Homo sapiens: one gene and its partners. The protein of the gene in region 1 purifies or fractionates together with the protein of each later gene. This does not show direct contact. Each region holds a gene or a part of one and is shown on either strand. Other genes may lie near its edges.

What was found.
Region 2: the proteins of PIF1 (region 1) and ATP23 purify together in Homo sapiens (affinity purification with mass spectrometry; one large-scale study listed by BioGRID and IntAct). This does not show direct contact.
Region 3: the proteins of PIF1 (region 1) and PASK purify together in Homo sapiens (affinity purification with mass spectrometry; one large-scale study listed by BioGRID and IntAct). This does not show direct contact.

What each region holds. Positions count from the first base shown.
Region 1 is NC_000015.10:64,819,106-64,822,753, reverse strand, and holds part of PIF1 (ATP-dependent DNA helicase PIF1), read left to right. Parts: intron 1-143; coding exon 144-276; intron 277-362; coding exon 363-488; intron 489-1,233; coding exon 1,234-1,387; intron 1,388-1,472; coding exon 1,473-1,587; intron 1,588-1,665; coding exon 1,666-1,772; intron 1,773-2,734; coding exon of another isoform or gene 2,735-2,750; exon of another isoform or gene 2,751-2,767; coding exon 2,768-2,907; intron 2,908-3,530; coding exon 3,531-3,637; intron 3,638-3,648. UniProt on the Homo sapiens protein: DNA-dependent ATPase and 5'-3' DNA helicase required for the maintenance of both mitochondrial and nuclear genome stability. Efficiently unwinds G-quadruplex (G4) DNA structures and forked RNA-DNA hybrids.
Region 2 is NC_000012.12:57,951,425-57,955,072, forward strand, and holds part of ATP23 (mitochondrial inner membrane protease ATP23 homolog), read left to right. Parts: intron 1-333; coding exon 334-471; intron 472-2,181; coding exon 2,182-2,265; intron 2,266-3,648.
Region 3 is NC_000002.12:241,125,342-241,128,989, reverse strand, and holds part of PASK (PAS domain-containing serine/threonine-protein kinase), read left to right. Parts: intron 1-1,538; coding exon 1,539-2,794; intron 2,795-3,648. UniProt on the Homo sapiens protein: Serine/threonine-protein kinase involved in energy homeostasis and protein translation. Phosphorylates EEF1A1, GYS1, PDX1 and RPS6.

The DNA of each region.
Region 1 (3,648 bases):
TCCAGGCAAACCCAAGAGCTCCATGGAATGAAGGCAGTAGAGGACAAAGGGTTACCAGGCCCAGCATTGCACATGGGCCAAGAAGGGTGGGGGCAATGCCTAGCGGGTGGGAGGATGCTCTGAGATAGCTCTGTTCCCCCCAGGAAGCCCCAAGGTGGCCCCTGCCTGTGAAGAGGCTGAGCTTGCCCTCCACCAAGCCACAGCTTTCTGAGGAACAGGCTGCTGTGCTGAGGGCCGTCCTGAAAGGCCAGAGCATCTTCTTCACTGGGAGTGCAGGTAGTGGGGGCAGAGAGGAGGTAGGGGGACAGTGGTGGGGTGGGATAGAGGAACAGGGAGACCTGTCTAACTTTGCCCCTGTCCAGGAACAGGGAAGTCATATCTGCTAAAGCGAATCCTGGGCTCACTGCCCCCCACAGGCACTGTGGCCACTGCCAGCACTGGGGTGGCAGCCTGCCACATCGGGGGCACCACCCTCCATGCCTTTGCAGGTAAGTAGGAACCCCTAGGGCTTGAGCTAAGAGCAAGCCCAGCTTCTGGGAAGGGAGAGAGGGGAGGTCTGCATAAAGAGGGAGTTTTGGGGGCTGGGCGCCGTGGCTCACTCTTGTAATCCCAAAACTTTAGGAGGCCAAGGTGGGAGGATCGCTTGAGCCCAGGAGTTTGAGACCAGCCTGGCCAACACAGTAAACCCTGTCTCCACAAAATTTAAAAATTAGCGGCCGGGCGCAGTGGCTCACGCCTGTAATCCCAGCACTTTGGGAGGCCGAGGCAGGCGGATCACAAGGTCAGGAGATCAAGACTATCCTGGCTAACACGGTAAAACCCTGTCTCTACTAAAAATACAAAAAAATTAGCCAGGCATGGTGGCAAGCGCCTGTAGTCCCAGCTACTCTGGAGGCTGAGGCAGGAGAATGGCGTGAACCCAGGAGGCAGAGCTTGCAGTGAGCCGAGATCACGCCACTGCACTTGAGCCTGGGCGACACAGCGAGACTCCATCTCAAAACAAAACAAAACAAAATTAGCTGAGCATGGTGGTGTGTGCCTGTAGTCCCAGCTACTATGGAGGTTGAGGTGGGAGGATCGCTTGAGCCCATGAGGCCCAGGTTACAGTGAGCCAAGATCGTGCCACTGCACTTCAGCCTGGGTGACAGAAAGAGACCTTCTCTCAAAAAAAAAAAAAAAAAAAAAAAAGAGAGGCTTTGGGTATTAGCCCAGGCTGAATAGTGTCACTCACAGGCATCGGCTCAGGCCAGGCTCCTCTAGCCCAGTGTGTGGCCCTGGCCCAAAGGCCAGGCGTGCGGCAGGGCTGGCTGAACTGCCAGCGGTTGGTCATTGACGAGATCTCAATGGTGGAGGCAGACCTGTTTGACAAACTGGAGGCCGTGGCCAGGTCAGTATGTTCAGAGGGCAGCAGGTGAGAACTGGGACCTGGTGGTCTTCTGTGTGCCCCTAAAGCACCCCACGCTCCTCTCCAGAGCTGTCCGGCAGCAGAACAAGCCATTCGGAGGGATCCAGCTCATCATCTGTGGGGACTTTCTGCAGCTGCCACCTGTGACCAAGGGCTCCCAGCCCCCACGGTTCTGCTTCCAGGTATTACTCACCTCCTAGCTCTGCTCTCCTTGGGGGTCTGCTCTGCTCCTTGACCCACCCCCACCCTGCCCCCACCAGTCCAAGAGCTGGAAGAGGTGTGTGCCAGTGACCCTGGAGCTGACCAAGGTGTGGAGGCAGGCAGACCAGACCTTCATCTCTCTACTGCAGGCCGTGAGGCTAGGCAGGTGAGCTCTGCTGGTTGGGGAAGGGGCTATGGGATGAGGATCCAGGCATGGGCCACAGTGGAACACAGAGAGGGACTCACAGAAGGGGTAGAATTGTTACCCTCAGGAGCAAGCACTCCATGCAGGAAGAGGAGCCTTGGGCAGGGCACTGGACAACTCAGGATGGATTGTAGTCAAGACCATCATGGCACCATAGGAGATGGTTGCTCTGAGTGCTGGGACCTAGCCTCCCTCAGGGTTGGGTCTCCATCACCTAGCACAAGGCCTGGCATAAAGTAGGTGTCAGGGGCTGGGCACGGTGGCTCACGCCTGTAATCCCAGCACTTTGGGAGGCTGAGGCAGGCGGATCACAAGATCAGGAGTTTGAGACCAGCCTGGCCAACCTGGTGAAACCCAGTCTCTACTAAAAATACAAAAATTAGCTGGGCGTGGTGGCACGCACCTGTAGTCCCAGCTACTTGGGAGGCTGAGGCAGGAGAATCGCTTAAACCAGGGAGGCAGAGGTTGCAGTGAGCCAAGATCATGCCACTGCACTGCAGCCTGGTGACAGAGCGAGACTCCGTCTCAAAAAACAAAAACAAAACAGAAACATAAGCTAGATTTTTCACCCAAGGTAGGAGGCAAGTGGATAGAAGATTGTACCCTGGAGGCCAATCTGGGTCCTGCAAATCTCCAGCCTGTGCTCACTCATCATAGCCAACTTCCTCAGGAGTATTATGGAGTGCGAGGGTGGCCAGCTCTGACCTGGGGCAGCACAGGGAAGGGTGCCCACATGTGATCAAAGCTCAGTACCCTGCCCCTGCTTATTCCCCATGTTTGGGGTCCAAGTTTGGAAGGGACAGGTTGGCCAGCTTGAGGGGGCAGCAACTCTTCCCTGGTGCCCTCTTCCAGTCCCAAGGCCTGACCCATGGCCTGCTGCTTGAGCCATCCTGCCCATGTTCCCCACCTCCCCTGCTGCACAGGTGGGCTCTGCCCTGACAGTCCAGCCCCAACAGGTGTTCAGATGAGGTGACCCGCCAGCTCCAGGCCACAGCTTCCCACAAGGTGGGGCGAGATGGGATTGTGGCCACGAGGCTCTGCACCCACCAGGATGATGTGGCCCTCACCAACGAGAGGCGGCTTCAGGAGCTGCCAGGTGAGCAGGGAGCCTGGGCTGGGCAAGACCAGCTGGGAAGAGTTATAAGCAGATGTAGCCCCCAGGCAACCTGGGCCTCTGGGTCCTAGGCCCCCAACCTCTGAAGCCATAAAGGCCCTCATATTTGCAAATGCAACTGTGACTTTGAGAGGTGTGATGAACTAAATTCCACAGCCCCCCAGGCCTGCGCTGCCTCTACTCCCTACCCCCGTGCTCTGGTCTAATAGTTTTTTTTGGAGGCTGGGAGCGGTGGGTCATACCTGTAATTCCAGCACTTTGGGAAGCCGAGACAGGCAGATCACCTGAAGCCAGCAGTTCGAGACCAGCCTGCCCAACATGGCAAAACCCCATCTCTACTAAAAATAGAAAAAAATTAGCCAGATGTGGTAGTGGGCACCTGTAATCCCAGCTATTCGGGAGGCTGAGGAGAATTGCTTGAACCCAGGAGGCAGAGGTTGCAGTGAGCCGAGATCACGCCTTTGCACTCCAGTCTGGGCAACAGAGCGAAACTCCTTCTCAAAAAATAAAATTAAATTAAATTAAAATTTAAAAAAAGTCTTTTTTGGGATGCTGAGTCACAAGTCAGTGATTTGTGATCTGTTTGCTCAACTCTTTTTCTCCAGGTAAGGTACACAGATTTGAGGCTATGGACAGCAACCCTGAGCTGGCCAGTACCCTGGATGCCCAGTGTCCTGTTAGCCAGCTCCTTCAACTAAAGCTGGGGGCCCAGGTGAGTGGGAA
Region 2 (3,648 bases), on another chromosome or scaffold:
TCTCTTAACCATAATGCTGTGGAGTCCGAGACAGACTAGTACGATCAGCCCAGTAAGGATGGTGTGTGAATACGTGTCCTTAATCTAAGTACTGCTGTAGTCCAGAGAGAGGAGAAGGGAGAAGTTAGTCACTGGGCGAGGCAATTGGAGCATGTACACTTAGGACTAGGACTTGTCCCATGGGTAGATGTGTGGCCAATGAAGAAGAGTGGGTAGAGATATTCCAGGCAGGTGAGCTTGTGGGGGAGAGGTGAGGTCATGTGGGAGAGAAGATCGAGTCTATGGAAGGAGATTTTAGAATCACTGAACTTCTTTTATTTTGGTGTCTCCTAGATAGTTTTGTGCCAGAATAATATCCATAATCAGGCCCATATGAACAGAGTGGTCACACACGAGCTTATTCATGCATTTGATCATTGTCGTGCCCATGTCGACTGGTTCACCAACATCAGACATTTGGCGTGCTCAGAGGTGAGTTTTATTGTATTTTTCTCCAGAATACTCTATGCTTGAATATTTTATTCAAGTGTAATTTATTTAAATGTATTCCTTTTCTTACTGTCATAGTTCTACCTTAGTCTTGAATTTCGGTTTATAACTAACATTGAATACCATTTTTGATATACAGTTAGAGAAATTTAAAGTGTATTTTTAGAATTCTCTTAACTATATCCTGTAAGTCCTAGTAATAGTGATGACTGACTTTAATAAGCTATTAATTTTTTCCTATGGAATATATTTTATAATGTATTCCATAGGAGACATTAATAATAAAAATAAAAATAAAAAAATAATTAAAATTTACTGAGGGCTGTGTTCCAAACACTGTTCTGTTTGCACAGATTCTTATTTAATCTTCACAATAACCTACTGAGATAGATATTATACTATTATTGTCCCTGTTTTACATATGTGGAAAGTGAGACAGTTGTTTAGATTCCAAAGTTAGTAAGTGGTAGAGGCAGGATTACAACTAGTGTTTTTAACTAGCTTGCCCAGCTGCCTTCCATAGAGCTCCTTGCTTGCCCTAGAGTAAAACATGCTCTTTTCAAAAATACAACATAAAAAGATATTTATTACTAAGCACGTTGGATTGCTCTTGGAATATGCTCCTAGAGAGAGCGTATTCTGCATATGCATATACTTGGATGTCATTAATTGAAGAGTTAATTAAAATAATCTAAATCTCAAGCCTATACTATATAACTTCGATTATTTCCCTTTCTCTTGAAATTAATATGTAGCCCCCTGCATCTAATTATAATTCCAATTATTTGGAGAATAGACTGAAACCTGAATTTTTAAATAGGTCTCTTTCTTGGGTACTGTGAGAATTAATGCCTTTTAGCTAGTTAAAGTGTGTTAAGTACTTTGAGCTCCTCAGAGGAATGAGGCCATAATATTGAAGAAGGAACAAGAAGTGGGCCATTCTGTTAGCAATGAATTAGCAAAAATGTGGTCAAGCTGCCTGTAGAATCTATGTGGGTAGTTCTAAGACTTTTTCATTCATTGAAGTATAGTAAATCTGAAAATATGTCCTAATTTCAGGCTGTCATGCTCATAGCGTGACCAGTTTGGAATGTTCTTGATTCTTTGTGTTTTGTATTGCTTCATTTTTCATAGGACAATCAAGTCCCTAGAGGAAGGTCATGAACTTATATAGGTTTGAGGGAAGCTCCAAGGGAGATTCGGGCAAGGGTTGGGAGGGGCATATTCTCAAAGTGTCTCAGATATTAATGCATTCAGTTTTAAGGTCACATTGAAACTCAGTTTATTTCAAGAATGCTTTCTTGAAGTACTTTTGGCAATTTCTACAAGTATTTGTATCTTGTAGAGTGTGTAGTTTAACTCTGAGGTCTAGCTCTCTGACTTTTGGTTCCAAAAGAAATTAGTTCTGTCAGTAAAGCTACGCATAAAGTTTAGAAAATTTCCTTTGGTAGGCGATTGAACTTTTCCCCATCTCTCCAGTGTATTTGGCATTGTCTAGCATAGCTCATAGATATTTGCTCTCGTTGTCAATAGAGTTTAAAAAGTCCTTTAAGAAGAAGTGTCACAAATACTCTTTTCTCAGACAAAGATGCTAATTTTATATTCTTTTCTAATTTTTAAAAATTGGTTGATATCATAAAGATATATAGAGCATGAGCGTTTATTTCTTTTTATTTGTCTTCTGTGTGATAGGTTCGAGCTGCTAACCTTAGTGGAGACTGCTCACTTGTCAATGAAATATTCAGGTTACATTTTGGATTAAAACAACACCACCAGGTAAAAACTAATATGAAATCACTTCCCCTCCAGAGTGTTACGAGTGGAAATAATGAATAAAGAAATGAAAAGTACATTCAGTATTTGAAATTTGAAAGAACTTCGTATGTGAAAAGAATACAAAGTATGTACCATTTAAACAAAGTAGATGGAATTTAGTTCTACTTTGTAATTATGGGCAAGCTATGTGACTCAATGAGTGTGTGAGATAGTCTAATAATGAAAAGAGGCCTGGTGCGGTGGCTTATGCCTCCCAGCAGTTTGGGAGGCCGAGGCGGGCGGATCACGAGGTCAGGAGATCGAGACCAGCGTGGCCAACATGGTGAAACCCCGTGTCTACTAAAAATACAAAAAAATTAGCTGGGCGTAGTGGAGCACACCTGTAGTCCCAACTACTATGGAGGCTGAGGCAGGAGAATCACTTGAATCTGGGAGATGGAGGTTGCAGTGAGCCGAGATCATGCCACTGCACTCCAGTCTGGGCCACAGAGTGAGACTCCATCTCAAAAAAAAAAAAAAAAAAAAAGGAGCTAAGATCTTGCATCTGGGATACTTTTCGATGGGGGTGGATAAGGAATGGAAGTGAAATCACAGCATGTCTTACTGTTATTCTAACAATTCTTGACTTCTATTTTGAATCTACCATAGCATTCTGGAGACAAAAGATGTAATCCCTTTCAGAACAGAGAGTGTGTTGCTGCACAAGTTATGGCTATGTGTCAGTGTACCTGTAAAGGCTATATAATGTGATAGAAAACCTTTGGCTTAGCACAGACTTGAGTATGATGAGCTTAGCTGAGAGGGATTTGTGTGAACAAAACAAAAACAAAAAACAAAAGAGAGCTATAAGGCAAGATTATCCTGGTAGAAAGGCTTTGAGATCTGTATTAGGTGGACGTGGGGAAAGAAAGTATAGGACTCATGGATTGATAATGAATGTGAGCAGTTCTGCCTGGGCCTGTGTCCACATTTAGGAGAAAGGCTGGTCAGTCATTTTCTACAGTAAGAGCCTGCTGAGTCAGTTTGTGAAGTATATGAGCATCACGATATCAGTTCCAACTAGATGAAAAAAGATAGGCTTAGGACAACAGGAAGGCCCTTGGTTTTCTGGAGAAGAGAGTAACTCAACTCTGGAGTGGGGGGTGGAAAGTCACAGTGAGCTACTCAGAAATTGTGAACTTAGTGAATGGGAGGGAGAAGAAAAGCCTTCTGCCTGGAAAGGGTGATTACTCTAGACAGTGAGGTGTTCAGCCTCTGCCAGGTCAGCTTAGTGATATGCCAGTGACTTGTCTTGTGCTGCATGTTTTCTGTGCCCTTGAGTCCCTGCTTCTCTGGTGAATTCTGTGTGTTCTGGCTGTCAGTGGAGAGGGTGGAAGCAGGGTA
Region 3 (3,648 bases), on another chromosome or scaffold:
CGCAGACCCTCAGCCTCCCCCTCAGTTCCCCTCAGAAAACTGCTTTTCCTCAGAACTTGGCTCACAATCCCTTTCTCTGTGGAACCCACCCTTGGGTTGTATCCTTCCTCTTCCGTCTTTTTTTTTTTGAGATGGTCTTGGCCATTGCCCAGGCTGGAGTGCAGTGGTGCGATCACAGCTCACTGCAGCCTAGACTCCTGTGCTCAAGCGAGGTTCCCGCTTCAGCCTCCCAAGTAGCTGAGACTACAGGTGTGTGTCACCACGCTGGCTAATTTTTAAATGTTTTGTAGAGACGAGGTCTCACTATGTTGCCCAGGCTGGTCTCGAACTCCTGGGCTCAGCCTCCCACAGTGCTGGGATTACAGGTGTGGGCCACTGTGCCCGATCCTGTCCTCTTTCTGAGCCTCTGGTATACCTTTATTAGGTTGCTGATGTTAACCTGTGTGTCTGTCCCCGAGTGAGGTGGTGCGGTCACATTCTGTGCATCTGGTGCCCAGTGTCAGTCTGTCATGTGGAGGCCAGTGGCTGGGCTGACAGGAGGCCTGGGTCCCTTGGCTCTGTGATCATCCTGTCTGGACTGTGGCAGCCTCCTCATGGGTCACCATGTGCTGAATGCTGGAGGACATTGTGTGCCACCTCTTAGGAGCCGCCCTCACCAGCCTCCTCTCTCTTTTTCGGCCCGTGTCCCCTTCTTTTTTTGTTTGTGTTTGAGACGGAGTCTCACTCTGTCACCCATCTCACCAGTGAGCTGGTACAATCTCAGCTCACTGCAACCTCTGCCTCCCAGGCTCAAACCATTCTCCTGCCTCAGCCTCCAAGTAGCTGGGATTATAGGTGCCTGCCACCTCACCGGGCTAATTTTTGTATTTTTAGTAGAGACAGGACTTTGCCATGTTGGCCAGTCTGGTCTCGAACCTCCTGACCTCAAGTGATCTGCCCACCTCGGCCTCCCAAAGTGCTGGGATTACAGGCGTGAGCCACCACGCCCGGCCCCCTGGCCCCTGGCCCCTTCTGTGTGGGCCCCATCTGAGAGCCATTTCCCAAATCTGAGAGCCATTTCCCTAGTCGGCTGTGAAATCGGATGGTGTTTGTAGTCAATCAGTTGTTTTTTTACTGTTGTGGAGTTTACCAGGGACTCTCCAATCTCTCTCTCGTTTCCTCTCACACCTCCTCAAGGCAGCAGCACGGACTTCCCCTTGCAGGTGGGGCCGAGGCTAGGCTGCACGGCTGACGGGGGGTTTGGGGGCCCTGAGATGAAGCGAGAGCGCTGACCAAAGCATTGGCAAGTTCTCCTGTACTTTACTGTTGGGCTTTTGGTAGCATTCTCTGCAAAATCATTTCTAAATGTGGACTTAATTTGGAGAAATTTGAGACTAAGTGCTTTATTTTTTAACTTGGTCACAAAATTTGGTCTTTTTCTTGTTATAAATTGGTGGCATTAAATGCTTTGTACTTAGTTCTAATGGAGAATCGGTGCAATCTCTCCTTTTGACTCATCTGTGGCCCTACATGATGGTCACCCATGTCATTATCCCCAGGGTGGACAATGTCCCAGAAGGAAGCCTGCCAGTGCACGGTGAACAGGCGCTGCCCAAGGACCAGCAAATCACTGCCTTGGGGAGAGAGGAACCTGTGGCAATAGAGAGCCCCGGACAGGATCTTCTGGGAGAAAGCAGGTCTGAACCAGTGGATGTGAAGCCATTTGCTTCCTGCGAAGATTCTGAAGCTCCAGTCCCAGCTGAGGATGGGGGCAGTGATGCTGGCATGTGTGGCCTGTGTCAGAAGGCCCAGCTAGAGCGGATGGGAGTCAGTGGTCCCAGCGGTTCAGACCTTTGGGCTGGGGCTGCCGTGGCCAAGCCCCAGGCCAAGGGTCAGCTGGCGGGGGGCAGCCTCCTGATGCACTGCCCTTGCTATGGGAGTGAATGGGGCTTGTGGTGGCGAAGCCAGGACTTGGCCCCCAGCCCCTCTGGGATGGCAGGCCTCTCGTTTGGGACACCTACTCTAGATGAGCCGTGGCTGGGAGTGGAAAACGACCGAGAAGAGCTGCAGACCTGCTTGATTAAGGAGCAGCTGTCCCAGTTGAGCCTTGCAGGAGCCCTGGATGTCCCCCACGCCGAACTCGTTCCGACAGAGTGCCAGGCTGTCACCGCTCCTGTGTCGTCCTGCGATCTGGGAGGCAGAGACCTGTGCGGTGGCTGCACGGGCAGCTCCTCAGCCTGCTATGCCTTGGCCACGGACCTCCCTGGGGGCCTGGAAGCAGTGGAGGCCCAGGAGGTTGATGTGAATTCGTTTTCCTGGAACCTCAAGGAACTCTTTTTCAGTGACCAGACAGACCAAACGTCATCAAATTGTTCCTGTGCTACGTCTGAACTCAGAGAGACACCCTCTTCCTTGGCAGTGGGCTCCGATCCAGATGTAGGCAGTCTCCAGGAACAGGGGTCGTGTGTCCTGGATGACAGGGAGCTGTTACTACTGACCGGCACCTGTGTTGACCTTGGCCAAGGCCGACGGTTCCGGGAGAGCTGTGTGGGACATGATCCAACAGAACCGCTTGAGGTTTGTTTGGTGTCCTCTGAGCATTATGCAGCAAGCGACAGAGAAAGCCCAGGACACGTTCCTTCCACGTTGGATGCTGGCCCTGAGGACACGTGCCCATCAGCAGAGGAGCCAAGGCTGAACGTCCAGGTCACCTCCACGCCCGTGATCGTGATGCGCGGGGCTGCTGGCCTGCAGCGGGAGATCCAGGAGGGTGCCTACTCCGGGAGCTGCTACCATCGAGATGGCTTACGGCTGAGTATGTCCCGGGCCCCATAGGAAGAAGTGTGGTGCTCCCAGAGCACAGTGCAGTGGGGGTGCAGGGCCTTCCTTGTTCTGGGGTCTGATGGGGTTTCACCCTGGAATAGTGTTAGCAGAAATCATGTTTTCAAGGAGAATGCATATCATCCACCCCTAGAAAATTAAGATTACGAATGTGTGTGCCTGGGGAGGGTGGCGCCCAAGGTCCCAGGCCACCTGCCCCATGCCCGTCAGTTCCAGCTGTGCCCCCTGACTCAGGCCATACACTTAGAGAGCCGCTCCTCCCAGCAGCCTGGGGAGATCCCGTCGGGAGCAGGAGAAGCGTGGGGGTGTCACGCTAGAGTCTGTCTCTCCACCTCCCACCAGCCCCCACCTCAGTGGTCACACAGACAGGCCGAGAGGGATGTGAGCGTGGTGAGATGCTCACGTGTTCTTCTTCCGTGCTTTTGGTGTTTAGGCTGCCCTGATCTCTGAAAAACCTGCCCTTCTGTGAGGGTCATGTGATCGGGCCCCTCTGCTTGCCCCTTTGAGATTGATTCTGTTTTACTTTCTTTTTTATTTTCATTTCTTTTTTTTTTTTTTTTCTTTTTTTTTGAGACAGAGTCTCTCTCTGTTGCCCAGGCTGGAGTGCAGTAGCGCGATCTCAGCTTACTGCAAGCTCCGCCTCCCGGGTTCATGCCATTCTCCTGCCTCAGCCTCCCTAGTAGCTGGGACTACAGGCACCCACCAGCACGCCCGGCTAATTTTTTCTATTTTTAGTAGAGACGGGATTTCACTGTGTTAGCCAGGATGGTCTCGTTCTCCTGACGTCGTGATCCGCCCGCCTCGGCTTCCCAAAATGCTGGGATTACA